Linked DNA regions of Homo sapiens: all the other regions are reported to be linked to region 1. The links are microRNA targets in miRTarBase. Many come from high-throughput screens and were not tested one by one. Region 1 holds a microRNA gene; each other region holds the end of a gene's coding sequence.

Region 1 (3,246 bases):
CTTGATTTCAGCTCACTGAAATCTCCTCCTCCTGGGTTCAAGGGATTCTCCTGCCTCAGCCTCCGGAGTAGCTGGAATTACAGATGTGCACCATTGCACCCAGCTAATTTTTGTATTTTTAGTAGAGACGAGGCTTTGCCATGTTGGCCCTGTTGGTCTTGAACTCCTGACCTCAGGTGATCCTCCCGTCTCGGCCTCCCAAAGTGCTGGGATTACAGGCATGCGCCACCGCGCCCGGCCTATTTTTTACTTTCTTGAGACTGAGTCTCACTCTGTTGCCCAGGGTGGAGTGCAGCAGAAGATTTCAGCTCACTGAAAGCTCAGCCTCCTGGCTTCATGTTGGCCAGGCTGGTCTCGAACAACTGATCTCAGGTGATCCTCCTGTCTCAGCCTCACAAAGTGCAGGAATTACAGACAAGAGCCACCATATGCACACTAGTCCCATATTTAAAATTAGGAAAAAAAAAAACAAAACAAAGATGCCCACACCTGAACAGCAAATCGTTTGTTGTTCAAGTACATCTCAAATACATTGTTTATCTAAAATACAAGTTTAACTGGGGTCAGGTATGAACCAAAGAACAGTCCTTACTTTCTTCTTGTCTGTGCATGGGGGGTTAATATTCACATGTGGTCCCATCTACCAAGGACTGGGGAGGGGCAGAGGCAGGAGGATCTAAGCCCACTTCAGCCAGGGCAGCATAGTGAGACCGCCGTCTCATGCATTTATCTCCTGGTCATGCACCCAGATTTCAGCTTCATTTCCCCAATAAACACTGAAGCCCCATGCACTCCACCTCCGTGCTCTTGCTCATCCCATCTGCAGGGACACTGAGGTCCCCTCAACTCCACCTGACCCCACGTGAGGTTCTATACCAGTGCCAGAAAAATTTCCATAAAGTAAAAGGTGCTGATGGCTGTGCCCGGTGGCTCACGCCTGTATTCTCAGCACTTTGGGAGGCCGAGGCCAGCGGCTCACTTGAGGTCAGGGGTTTGAGACTAGCCTGGCCAACATGGTGAAACCCCACCTTTACTAAAAAAAAAAAAAAAAAAAAAAAATCAAAATCAAAAAGTAGCTGGTTGTAGTGGTGGGTGCCTGTAATTCCACCTACTCAGGAGACTGAGGCAGGAGAATGGCTTGAACCTGAGAGGCAGAGGTTGGAGTCAGCCGGGATCATGCCACTGCCCTCCAGGCTGGGTGACAGCAACACTCCATCTCAAAAATGAATGAATGAATAAAAAAGAAAAATACAAATATTAGCCGAGTGTGATGTCAGGCATCTGTAATCCCAGCTACCCAGGAAGCTGAGGCAGGAGAATCACTCGAACCCGGGAGGTGGAGGTTGCATTGAGCCAAGATCGCGCCACTGCACTCCAGTCTGGGTCACAGAGCAAGACTGTATCCCATAAAAGGACCATCTGAGCCCAACAGGCCTATCTTAAAAAGTGCTTCTCTAGTCTCTCCTGGGCAACAGAGACCTTGTCTTAGAAAAAAAAAAAAACACAAAACAAAACACACACACCAAAACAAAAAACAAAAACCTAACAAACAAAAAAACCAACCAAACAAACAAACAAAAAAACAGACTCCCAACATCATCCAAGTCTGATTACAAGCATGGTCTGCAAATGTATTACCAAGATCAGCATCATCTTCAACGTGGCTTTTCCCAAACGGTAACACTCTAAAGGGAGGCACTTTGTTTAAGAGAAAACAAACAGAAAGCGCTTCCCTTTGGAGGGTCACAGCATGGGATCTTCTTGCTCCAGCACTCTGGGTTTTTTGTTGAAATCTTCCTTGACCAGGTTAAAATGGCCACAACAATAAAGATGCATTTATTGGCCCTGTTTGCCTGTTTTCTAGAATCCAGAACATAAACCCCTAAAAGGACCATCTCCAGTTCCTTTCTTCAAAGGCTCTGCAGGTTAGCCTTGTTCATCAAGGGGCAACCCTCCTGAGTTTTGCCTCTAAAGAGAAAAAGCAATGCCTACTACACATACCTTATATTTAACCAAGAGAACTGGGCTGGATTTCTAGAGAACAGCAATGGACTTTGAGCTGAGTGTTCACTTGAGTTCCAGCACAGGGATACATAGTTCCGATGGGAGCATCCAAAATGGAGTCTAAGATGTTGAAGAATATACATTGTCACACACACAAACATCCTCCAGGATAGACCACAGGCTAGTGGATCACCTGAAAGCGGGAGTTCAAGACTAGCCTGGCCAACATGGTGAAACCCGTCTCTACTAAAAACATAAAAATTAGCTGGGTGGGGCAGTAGGTGCCTGTAATCCCAACTACCTGGGAGGCTGAGGCAGAAGCATCACTCGAACCCAGGAGGCGGAGGTTGCAGTGAGCCTAGATCATGCCAGTGCTCTCCAGGATGGGCAGCAAGAGTGCAGGACACGATGGTGGGTGCCTGATGCCTGAATTCCCAACAATTCGGCAGGCTGAGGTGGGAGAATCACTGGAACCCGAGAGGTGGAGTTTCCGGTGAGCAGAGATCCTGCTACTGCACTCCCAACGAAACAAGAGTGTGTCTCAAAAAATCAAAAAATAAAAAGAGGACCACTTAAGCCCAAGAAATCTTGGTGGAAGGTGCTATCCACCCACGCCTGGGCAATAGAAAGCCTGTCTTGGAAAAATTTCAAATCACAAACAGAACCCCGACATCATGCAAGTCTGATGATAAGCACGCTCTGCAAATGTATTACCAAGATCAGCAGCATCTTCAACGTTGCTTGTCTCAAACAGTAACACTCTAAAGGGATGCACGATCTTTTCTTTTATACAACAGACAGTGCTTCCATCTAGAGGGTCACTGCCTGAGATCTTCTTTTTTTTGACACGGAGTCTCACTCTGCCGCCCAGGCTGGATGCGGTGGTGGGATCTCGGCTCATGGCAACTTCTGCCTCCTGGGTTCAAGCGATTCTTCTGCGTCAGCCTCCTGAGTAGCTGGGATTAGAGGCACCCACCACCATGCATATTGCATATATGACTGCATATATGACCTGGTCATGCACCCAAGATGTTGGTTTCATTTCCCCAGTGAAAACTCAAACCCCATGCACTCCACCTCCGTGCTCTTGCTGAGCACATCCCATCTGCAAGGGACACTGAGGTCCCCCTTTGACTCTACCTGACCCCACATGAGGCTTTATAAATCAGTGCCAGAATAATTTCCATGGACTAAAAGGTGTTAATGGCCATGTGTGGTGGCTCACGCCTGTAATCTTAGCAC
Region 2 (3,000 bases), not on the chromosome of region 1:
GAGGCCGAGAAAGGTGGATCACCTGAGGTCAGGAGTTAATCAGCCTGGCCAACATGGTGAAACCCCGTCTCTACTAAAATTACAAAAATCAGCCAGGTGGGGTGGCAGGCGCCTGTAATCTCAGCTACTTGGGAGGCTGAGGCAGGAGAACTGCTGGAACCCAGGAGGTGGAAGTTGCAGTGAGCCGAGATCACGCCACTGCACTCCAGCCCGGGTGACAACCGCGAGACTTCATCTCAAAAAAAAAGTGTTTGCAACAGCACCATTTGTCAAATTCAAAGATGCTCAAAAGGTGTTCCCTACTTTGCATGAGAGGGAGAGCTTTGTAACAGGAAATTGTATAAGGCAAACTCTCTATTCATTCCTAAGGCCTCTGTTCATTCCTAATGTTTACATGGTTCTCTACTCTGAAGGGCACCAACATGGACCTCACCTTCTTAACATGGAAAATCAAAATCTAAATGAATACAATTAAAAGGAGGCAGCAAGCTTCTTGCAGTGGGTCCCTTAAACATTATGAAAACATCAGTGCATTGTGTAGTCTGTTACGCTATAAACTGAGGTCTCTTTATGAAAGATTATTTTAGCACAAATTCAGAATGAAGCCAGTCCAAGAAAAAAAGAATTGGAAGCTATTTGAAGGTTAGATAGGAAATATACCAAAAATAGAAGAGCGTAGAGAGGGCTGCACCACATCCTACCACGCAAGCACACCCACTGAACTGAGTAAGAGTGGCGTGGCTGAGGTGCCGTCAGCAGCTGACTATGTCACTCTTATGAGTTCTGCTCAGGAACAAGCATAAAACTGAATAATATGACATCACAGTCCAAGACCTGGTAAGAGTTGGTTTCTTTTTATTTGGAAATAACTATGGTCAACTTTCATTAATGTGGAAGTTGACTGATAATGTTAAGAGTCAAAGTGAAAAAGAAAGCCGATACCCATATTCAACAGTGCTTTCAGTTACAACATTTTTTGAATTTCCTTCTCTAAAACATTCACAGCAGAGGTGTCCATTTCACTTGCCTGTTTCACCTCTAGATACCACCACAGTTGCTGGGGTCATGTGAGGTAAAGGAATATATCCAATTGACTGTTAGCCCAACATGACTATCTGCAATTCTGATAGAAAAGCTACTTTCAGCCATGTCTTACAAAGTGCTTAAAGCTGGACAGAAGACTTTAAATAAAGCTAAAATCGCTTATTGCCTGAGTTGAACAAGTTACAAACCACAGCTCTTCCTCCTCCCCTGCTGTCTCACCACCAATTAGCCTTCTTGTGAGGACAACATTAGAAATGGAACTGGTTTTTGAGCCAAGAAACATAAAAATTTAGGTGTTCTTAGCCAAGCGTGGTGGCTCATGCCTGTAATCCCAGCACTCTGGGAGGCCGAGGTGGGTGGATCACAAGGTCAGGAGTTCAAGACCAGCCTGGCCAACATGGTGAAACTCTGTCTCTACTAAAAATACAAAAAATTAGCTGGGCGTGGTGGTGCGTGCCTATAATCCCAGCTACTCAGGAGGCGGAGGCAGGAGAATCGCTTGAACCCAGGAGGCGAAGGTTGCAGTGAGCTGAGATCATGCCATTGCACTCCAGCCTGGGTGACATAGTGAGACTCTGTCCCCACTTCTCAAAAATAAAAACATTTAGGTGTTCTCAACAGTGAAGAAACCTGAATAGATTTGATTTTGACAGGGGAATACTGATAATCATACAAGACTCCAAAACTCAGGAAGAACCCATCTAAAAGGGGAGAAGGTAGGGTAAAGTAGTTGATACTTTGCATCAACTGTAAGAAAATTTTCCACCTTAAAACAAATGAAGAGAATGACAGAAAAATGCAGATAGAGCCAATGACTTCATACATGGAACTTAAATTCAAGCTCCCTGCTGGACAGGCACTTCTTTCCTTTATCCCTGGTACAGCCCTTCCACTTGTCTGTTCAAGAGCCCTGTCTTCAGAAGGCCCTCGGAAGAGACAACCTTCACCAACTCTTGGCAGTTCTTCACTGCTGATGTTCCTAAGCCACTTCATTTTTCAGATCTCAGAGGGGAGTCTCAAGAGAAGGGACCTTGCCTTAATCCTTCCAGTGTTAACTGGCACTCCCTGTGGTTGGCAGCCACTGGAAAGTAGATGGCTATCACCTTCAAGAGCTACCTGGAATTGGCCTTTATCACAAGCTTACTGCTCTATTTCAGTGCAGCACCAGCCTAGAATTCACAAAAACATGAACAGAGCTTGGGTGACATGTTTTGAATTTGCAACCTTACCACACTGTGATGAACATCATAAAAAATGTATCTCTACTTATCAATCAACAATGGTACTTGTTCTTACTTGGATGATTCAGCTCTGATGGTTACTCTTCAAGCCATGTGATGTTAGTATTTTTGATAGTGAAGTGCTCAATCTGAAATGCTACACAGGTCCTTTGACTTTAGGTCAAGCTTACATATCAAAAGGTGTGTCTGTGTGTTTGTGTGTGTCCTAAAGTACTGCCATTTATCTGAATGGGTTTACAAATTCAGTCTTTAACCACAAGAGGAATAATCAAGAACTGTGGCCCCAGGATAAAAAGAATACAGTGAGAACAAAGACCTCAGGAGTGTCCTTGTCAGCTAAAGGAAGAGACCAGAGACAGCCACTCCTGACACATGGGCAGAGTTCACAGTTTAACACATTGCACGAGGAAGTCAGCTGACTGGGTTGCTTTTTCAAACAGGACTTAAAGCCAGCCCAGAAACTCTTCCAGGTGTGGTCTTGAAGACTAGCTACAGACACCTACTACAATCACTTCATCAGAAAGAGGCGTGCAGGGATCCATCTGCAGAGGCTGTGTGAGGTCGCTACAGAAGATGTTTGGAAAATCTTCGAGTCCTGACACTGCCGCGATTGCTGAACATGAGACGGGGGTCAAACCTGTATCTGGGGAGGAAAAACCAAATGTAACATTAGCTCTCACTAGCTTCTCACTCAGAATATTATTCAGTGGAAAGG
Region 3 (3,000 bases), not on the chromosome of region 1:
CTCTAAGGGTTTCTTTTAAGGGAATTATATATTATTTTAGAATTCATGAATCTTTAAATAATGTAGCTGTTGTCTTTTAATTTCATGGTGAATACTAAGACTGGTTTTGTGATAGTTATTCTCTTTATGTAACTTCTACATATCTCTACTGTTAAAAGCTATCTTTTTCTTATGGTAAAATTGGTTTAGAGTGGTTGACAGTTTAAAGAGGGATTTGTGATGATATCTGTTCATTTTCATAGGGTTGGGGAGCAGAATATCACCGGCAGGATGTAACCAGCACCCCATGTTGGATTGAGATTCATCTTCATGGGCCTCTTCAGTGGCTGGATAAAGTCCTTACTCAGATGGGCTCCCCTCTGAACCCCATATCTTCTGTTTCATAATGCAGAAGTATTCTTTTCAATTATATTGTTAGTGGACTTGTTTTAATTTTAGAGAAACTTTGAGTACAGATACTGTGAGCTTACATTGAAAACAGATATTACAGCTTATTTTTTTCTACATAATTGTGACCAATACATTTGTATTTTGTGATGAATCTACATTTGTTTGTATTCATGTTCATGTGATTAACTCTTAGAAGTGTTGTAAAAGATGCAGAGTAAGTATTATGCCCCAGTTCAGAAATTTGGCATTGATCTTAAACTGGAACATGCTTTTACTTTATTGCCCTAACAATTTTTTATTAAATTTATTTGAAAATGCATCACATGATGAAAAATTATAGTAGCTTATAAGAGGGCATATACAGTGAAGAGTAAGTTTTCCCTCCTACTCTCGATCTTCCAGAAGCTGTACTTTTACCAGTTTCTTTGTCCCACCAACTTAAAAAAAAAAAGTACAATTCATTGTTTTGCAAAAGTGTATGGTAGGGGCTTAAAAGAAACTATAAAGTTTTATTTGAATGAACACTATGCACTGCTGTAACTGGTAGTGTTCAGTAAAAGCAAAATGATAGTTTTCTAGATGACATAAAATTTACATTTAATACAGATAAGTGTTCTTCAGTGTAATGTGACTTCATGCTATATATCTTTTGTAAGACATTTCCTTTTTTAAAAAAATTTTTGCAAATAACTGATCTCAAGTATATGTCATTTACTCAAAATCTGTCATAAGCATTACTTTATAGCTAGTGACAGTGCATGCACAGCCTTGTTCAACTATGTTTGCTGCTTTTGGACAATGTTGCAAGAACTCTATTTTTGACATGCATTAATCTTTTATTTTGCACTTTTATGGGTGACAGTTTTTAGCATAACCTTTGATAAAATACACTCAAGTGACTTGGACTTAGATGCTTATCCTTACGTCCTTGGTACCTTTTTTGTATTAACAAACACTGCAATTTATAGATTACATTTGTAGGAAGTTATGCTTTTTTCTGGTTTTTGTTTTACTTTCAACCTAGGTTATAAGACTGTTATTCTATAGCTCCAACTTAAGGTGCCTTTTTAATTCCCTACAGTTTTATGGGTGTTATCAGTGCTGGAGAATCATGTAGTTAATCCCATTGCTCTTACAAGTGTCAGCTTACTTGTATCAGCCTCCCTACGCAAGGACCTATGCACTGGAGCCGTAGGAGGCTCTTCAGTTGGGCCCCAAGGATAAGGCTACTGATTTGATACTAAATGAATCAGCAGTGGATGTAGGGATAGCTGATTTTAAAACACTCGGCTGGGCACAGTGGCTCACACCTGTAATCCCAGCACTTTGGGAGGCTGAGGCAGGCAGATCATGATGTCAGGAGTTTGAGACCAGCCTGGCCAATATGGTGAAACCCTGTCTCTACAAAAAATACAAAAATTAGCTGGGCATGGTGGTGCGTGCCTGAAGTCCCAGCTACTCGGGAAGCTGAGGCAGAAGAATCACTTGAACCTGGGAGGCGGAGGTTGTGGTGAGCCGAGATCGCACCACTGCACTCCAGCCTGGGCGACAGAGCGAGACTCTGCCTCAAAAAACAAAACAAAACAAAACACTCACCCATCAACGAATATAGACTCTTCTCTCATTTATCGATGATCCTCTTTTTCCATTTTTTAAGTACTTATGTGGAAGCTAGTCTCCCAAAACACAATCTTTAGAGAGAAAAGACATGAACGAACTCCAAAATATCCATTTAATCAATCATGTTTTTGGCTTTGGATAAAGAACTTTGAACCAGTTTTTTTCTCAGGAGCTGTCAAATGGACACTTAATTATGACATGAGAATGAAGAAATTATTTTGGAAAAAAAAAATGACCTAATTTACCTATCAGTGAAAGCTTTATTTTCTGGTGCCTTTTGAAAGTATATGGAGTCATATCATTCTTCTGTTTAAAATGTTAGTTTGGTTTGACTTTCCACTTTGTCCTTTCTGCTCTTGTGAAGAAAAAAAAAAGCATTTTCGAGGAAAGAATTATGCAATTTCTTTTGTTTTCTGTGTCATTATTTATTGCTTTTTCAATGTGCAGCCAGTGGATGGTTTTAGTTCTTTCAGATGAACTGCCATTTGTGTTTCAGCTCACAGTTCTTTGCTGGGTAAAAGAAATACTTTCTGACAGTCACCTGAGCCTTAAATGTAAGTATTACATGACATGCATTCTGTTTCTTCCAGAGTTCTGTCTGCCACACGAAAGAGAATATTTGCTTACTTGATAGAACTTTGGCATTTTCATCATTCTTTTACTTAACCAGGCTTATGGCATGATCTCTGGAACAAATTTGTAGGAAAAAATTACTCCAATTGAATGACTGATGTATGTAATCAACTTCATTGGGCTGCAGTAAACTAGTGGAAATTAGAGAGTTGTTTTATTGGTGTTTTCTACTGTGAGTTAATTAAAAATTGTTTTTATTTGGGGTCATTATGTCACAGTCTTGAGTTAACAAGATCTTACGTGATTGGCCTTTTCTTTGTTTTCTCTTAGGAGTTGTGTCTCATGAATGACAGTACTAAAGCTATTAACAACTAAGAGTTTGACAGAGAACTATAAGCCTGTTGTATCTCCTAAAAG
Region 4 (3,000 bases), not on the chromosome of region 1:
TGAGGCCCTGTTGTCTTTCCTTTGCACAATTTGGGAGAGGGATCCAAGACAGCCCTAATAGCCATTGTCTCCATGAATAAGCTCTGTTTTGCTATTTTACTGGCATTTCTCCCTGTGAGAGCTTTCTATGTGCAGAATACTTGTGAATTCTTAGCTAAGGTAGAAAGTTGGGAGATAAGCGAAGTTTGCATATTTGGCCATATCCAAAAGGCAGTTTCCTTCTGAATTGGCCTGAAAATGACCTTTTTTTTTTCTTCTTTCTTTCTAGGCAAGCTGTGGATTTTCTGAGCAATGAGGGGCACATCTATTCTACTGTGGATGATGACCATTTTAAATCCACAGATGCAGAATAACTGGATCTAACTGGGTACCTGAGATATTTTACAGCTGGACCTAGTTTCACAATCTGTTGTCTCCAGCTCTGCATATGTCTGGCCAGGGGGCTTCTAGGAAGTAGGTTTCATCTATCAAATGTCTCCTCTGACTTCCTTTTGAAACTTACTGCTCTTCTGTTTTATTTTGTTTTGTTTGAAGCTCAGAGGGAGATGGGCAATTGACAGGGATGCAATCCAGGGTGGGATTTCTTGAGGAAGTTACAAATAAGCTTGTTACAACATCAAGATAGATGGAATTGGAAGGATGCTACCAGGAGAGTACTTACATAGTGCTCAGGAGTTTCTCTTCTTAAAATGTTTACTGCTGAAAGATGAGCAGGACCAGGGCGTTATAGGCAGAGCCCTAGCCGAGAAACCTGCTGGCCTCTGCCTGTTTTCATTTCCCACTTTGGTTGTGTGGCATTACTTTCAGAATTGCACTTTCCTGCTTGTCATGACTTTTTGACACACTTGCCATGACGTGTGTTTCTGTGAACATGAAGTTCTGCGGTAGTGCCTCCAGGGGCAGAGGAAAAGAAGAAGTGTTACTGCATTTTGTACAAAATAAATACAGTCATATGTTTAATAAAACAGTTCTATTGTAGTAACTTGTAAAAATTCTCGTTTTTCTTTCTGAGCAGTGTAATGACCACTTTATCATCTGAGGCAGTGTAACATAGTGAAACTTGGATTTGAATTCTGGCTTTCCCACTTTTTAGTTAGAATCTTGAGCAGGCTATGTCAGCTCTGAGAACCTCCATTTCCTCATTTACAAAAAGAAAACGTTATTTCCCCTGGGTTTGTTGTGAAGATTGAAAAAAACATAGTCTGTAAAGCGTCTAAATCTAGTATTGCCATTTAAAGGGATTATATAATGGACTTTAATGTTGACTCTTTGGCAGTGTGTGATCATGTAACTGAATCAAATAGCTACCCATTTGGCCTCAAGATGAGACTTTCCAAAAGCCTATGGTCATTTTTTGGCCAACTTGATTGGCTGTTTCTTACAGAAAAAGAAACTAGTTCAATGATGTTTTTGACAACTCCTGAAAGTAATCTACATCTTGAATAAAAGAACCAATTTTGAGATAAAGTTAGTGAGACGTAACATCCCAATAAGAATTCTCTGGCCGGGCGCGGTGGCTCACGCCTGTAATCCCAGCTCTTTGGGAGGCCGAGGCAGGCAGATCACAAGGTCAGGAGATCGAGATCATCCTGGCTAATTCGGTGAAACTCCATCTCTGCTAAAAATACAAAAAATTAGCCAGGCAAGGTGGTGGGCGCCTGTAGTCCCAGCTACTCAGGAGGCTGAGGCAGGAGAATGGTGTGAACCCGGGAGGCAGAGCTTGCAGTGAGCCGAGATTGCACAACTGCATTCCAGCCTGGGCAACAGAGCGAGACTCTGTCTCAAAAAAAAGAATTCTCTGCTTTAACTCTGTTTCTAAATGAGATCTAGCAGCTGTGTAGAGAAGGCTCCACCTACTTGGTTTCTAACAGTGGATGAATGTATGGTTGTTTTCTATACATGCAGAGTTGTTAACATCTGCGGAACTATGCAAATGTGTAAAACTCAGCCAGCATGTTCATTTGCAAGTGTGTTCCTTCTTGGTTATTTTCTCAAAGAACAATGACTAAAAACAAGTAAAATCGTGTATTTGAATTTGGAATATATGACGGGATACTTTTATGGTTGGTAAACTTCTCTTTCTAGTTATGAAGCTGGGTGCCCTCAAATGGGCAAAGCGGTAGCAGTACTTGTAGGTGGAAGTGGTTTTCTTTTTTCTTTATTTTTATTTTTATTTTTTTTTAGACAGAGCCTTGCTGTGTTGCCCAGGCTGGAGTGCAGTGGTGCAATCTCAGCTCACTGCAAGCTCCGCCTCCCATGTTCAAGTGATTCTCCTGCCTCAGTCTCCCGAGTAGCTGGGACTATAGGCGCATGCCACCATACCCAGCTAATTTTTGTATTTTTAGTAGAGACAGGGTTTCACCGTGTTAGCCAGGATGGTCTCGATCTCCTGACCTCATGATCCGCCCACCTTGGCCTCCCAAGGTGCTGGGATTATAGGCGTGAGCCTGACCGGTTTTTTTTTCTTTTGATAAAAATCAGATGACGACTTAGCAATTAACAACTGCTTGTTAATTTAGTGCTTATTGGATACCTGCTGTATCAACCCGTAGGTCAGGTACTAGGAATATAAAGCACAATAAGAGATTGGCGTCACGGGACAGGCTGGTTCAGCATTCCCAGCAGCACAGAATAGTTGCTCAGTGGTGCTGGATTCCCTGCCATCTTGCCATTTCCACAGTCTCATGGGGGTTGTGTGATTTCTGACCGCTGCTGGGACCTGTGGGATGAGCACAGGCAGGAGAGCCAGCCAGGCCACTTCTCAGAATGAAACTCCAGGCTTTGTAGAGCTTCTGCTCTGCTCAGGCAGGACAAACTTGCATCTTGGGCATTTGTGGTCCACCTGATAGGTCACATGTACAGTGTTCTCTTGGCCCATTGTTGAGATAGCCGTGTGACCCAGGTTCTTAGAAACCACCAGTGTCACGGCCTAGCAATGGGTCCAGCCTGCTCATAGGAGAATCCCTACATATACAGGTGGGAAATGAGGCTCCTTGGAGA

The links. Region 1 holds the annotated microRNA hsa-miR-519d-3p (CAAAGUGCCUCCCUUUAGAGUG, at 1,682-1,703, opposite strand). A microRNA usually pairs through its seed, bases 2 to 8, with sites in the 3' UTR of a target mRNA and lowers its output. Matches are read on the target gene's strand: a 7mer-m8 pairs with bases 2 to 8, a 7mer-A1 pairs with bases 2 to 7 and ends in A, and an 8mer does both.
Region 2: miRTarBase lists GNS as a target of hsa-miR-519d-3p. Seed matches in the 3' UTR shown: 7mer-m8 at 1,157-1,163.
Region 3: the mRNA of SMAD5 is a reported target of hsa-miR-519d-3p. Seed matches in the 3' UTR shown: 7mer-m8 at 1,234-1,240 and 7mer-m8 at 1,712-1,718.
Region 4: miRTarBase lists RPA2 as a target of hsa-miR-519d-3p. Seed matches in the 3' UTR shown: 7mer-m8 at 812-818.

Annotation. Positions count from the first base shown.
Region 1 is chr19:53,711,857-53,715,102 of GRCh38, reverse strand. MIR519D (microRNA 519d) reads right to left here and starts at 1,756; the gene lies at 1,669-1,756. It overlaps MIR517A (microRNA 517a), which reads right to left and starts at 2,835; the gene lies at 2,749-2,835.
Region 2 is chr12:64,713,892-64,716,891 of GRCh38, forward strand. It overlaps GNS (glucosamine (N-acetyl)-6-sulfatase), which reads right to left. Exons shown (of 14, transcript NM_002076.4): 14 at 1-2,928. The coding sequence ends at 2,850. Among named protein-coding and RNA genes, the nearest start is that of GNS, 44 kb to the right of the region's middle.
Region 3 is chr5:136,177,095-136,180,094 of GRCh38, forward strand. SMAD5 (SMAD family member 5) reads left to right here. Exons shown (of 8, transcript NM_005903.7): 8 at 243-3,000. The coding sequence ends at 386. Among named protein-coding and RNA genes, the nearest start is that of SMIM32, 15 kb to the right of the region's middle.
Region 4 is chr1:27,889,516-27,892,515 of GRCh38, reverse strand. It overlaps RPA2 (replication protein A2), which reads left to right. Exons shown (of 9, transcript NM_002946.5): 9 at 269-992. The coding sequence ends at 353. Among named protein-coding and RNA genes, the nearest start is that of THEMIS2, 18 kb to the right of the region's middle. RefSeq lists a silencer at 1,682-1,751.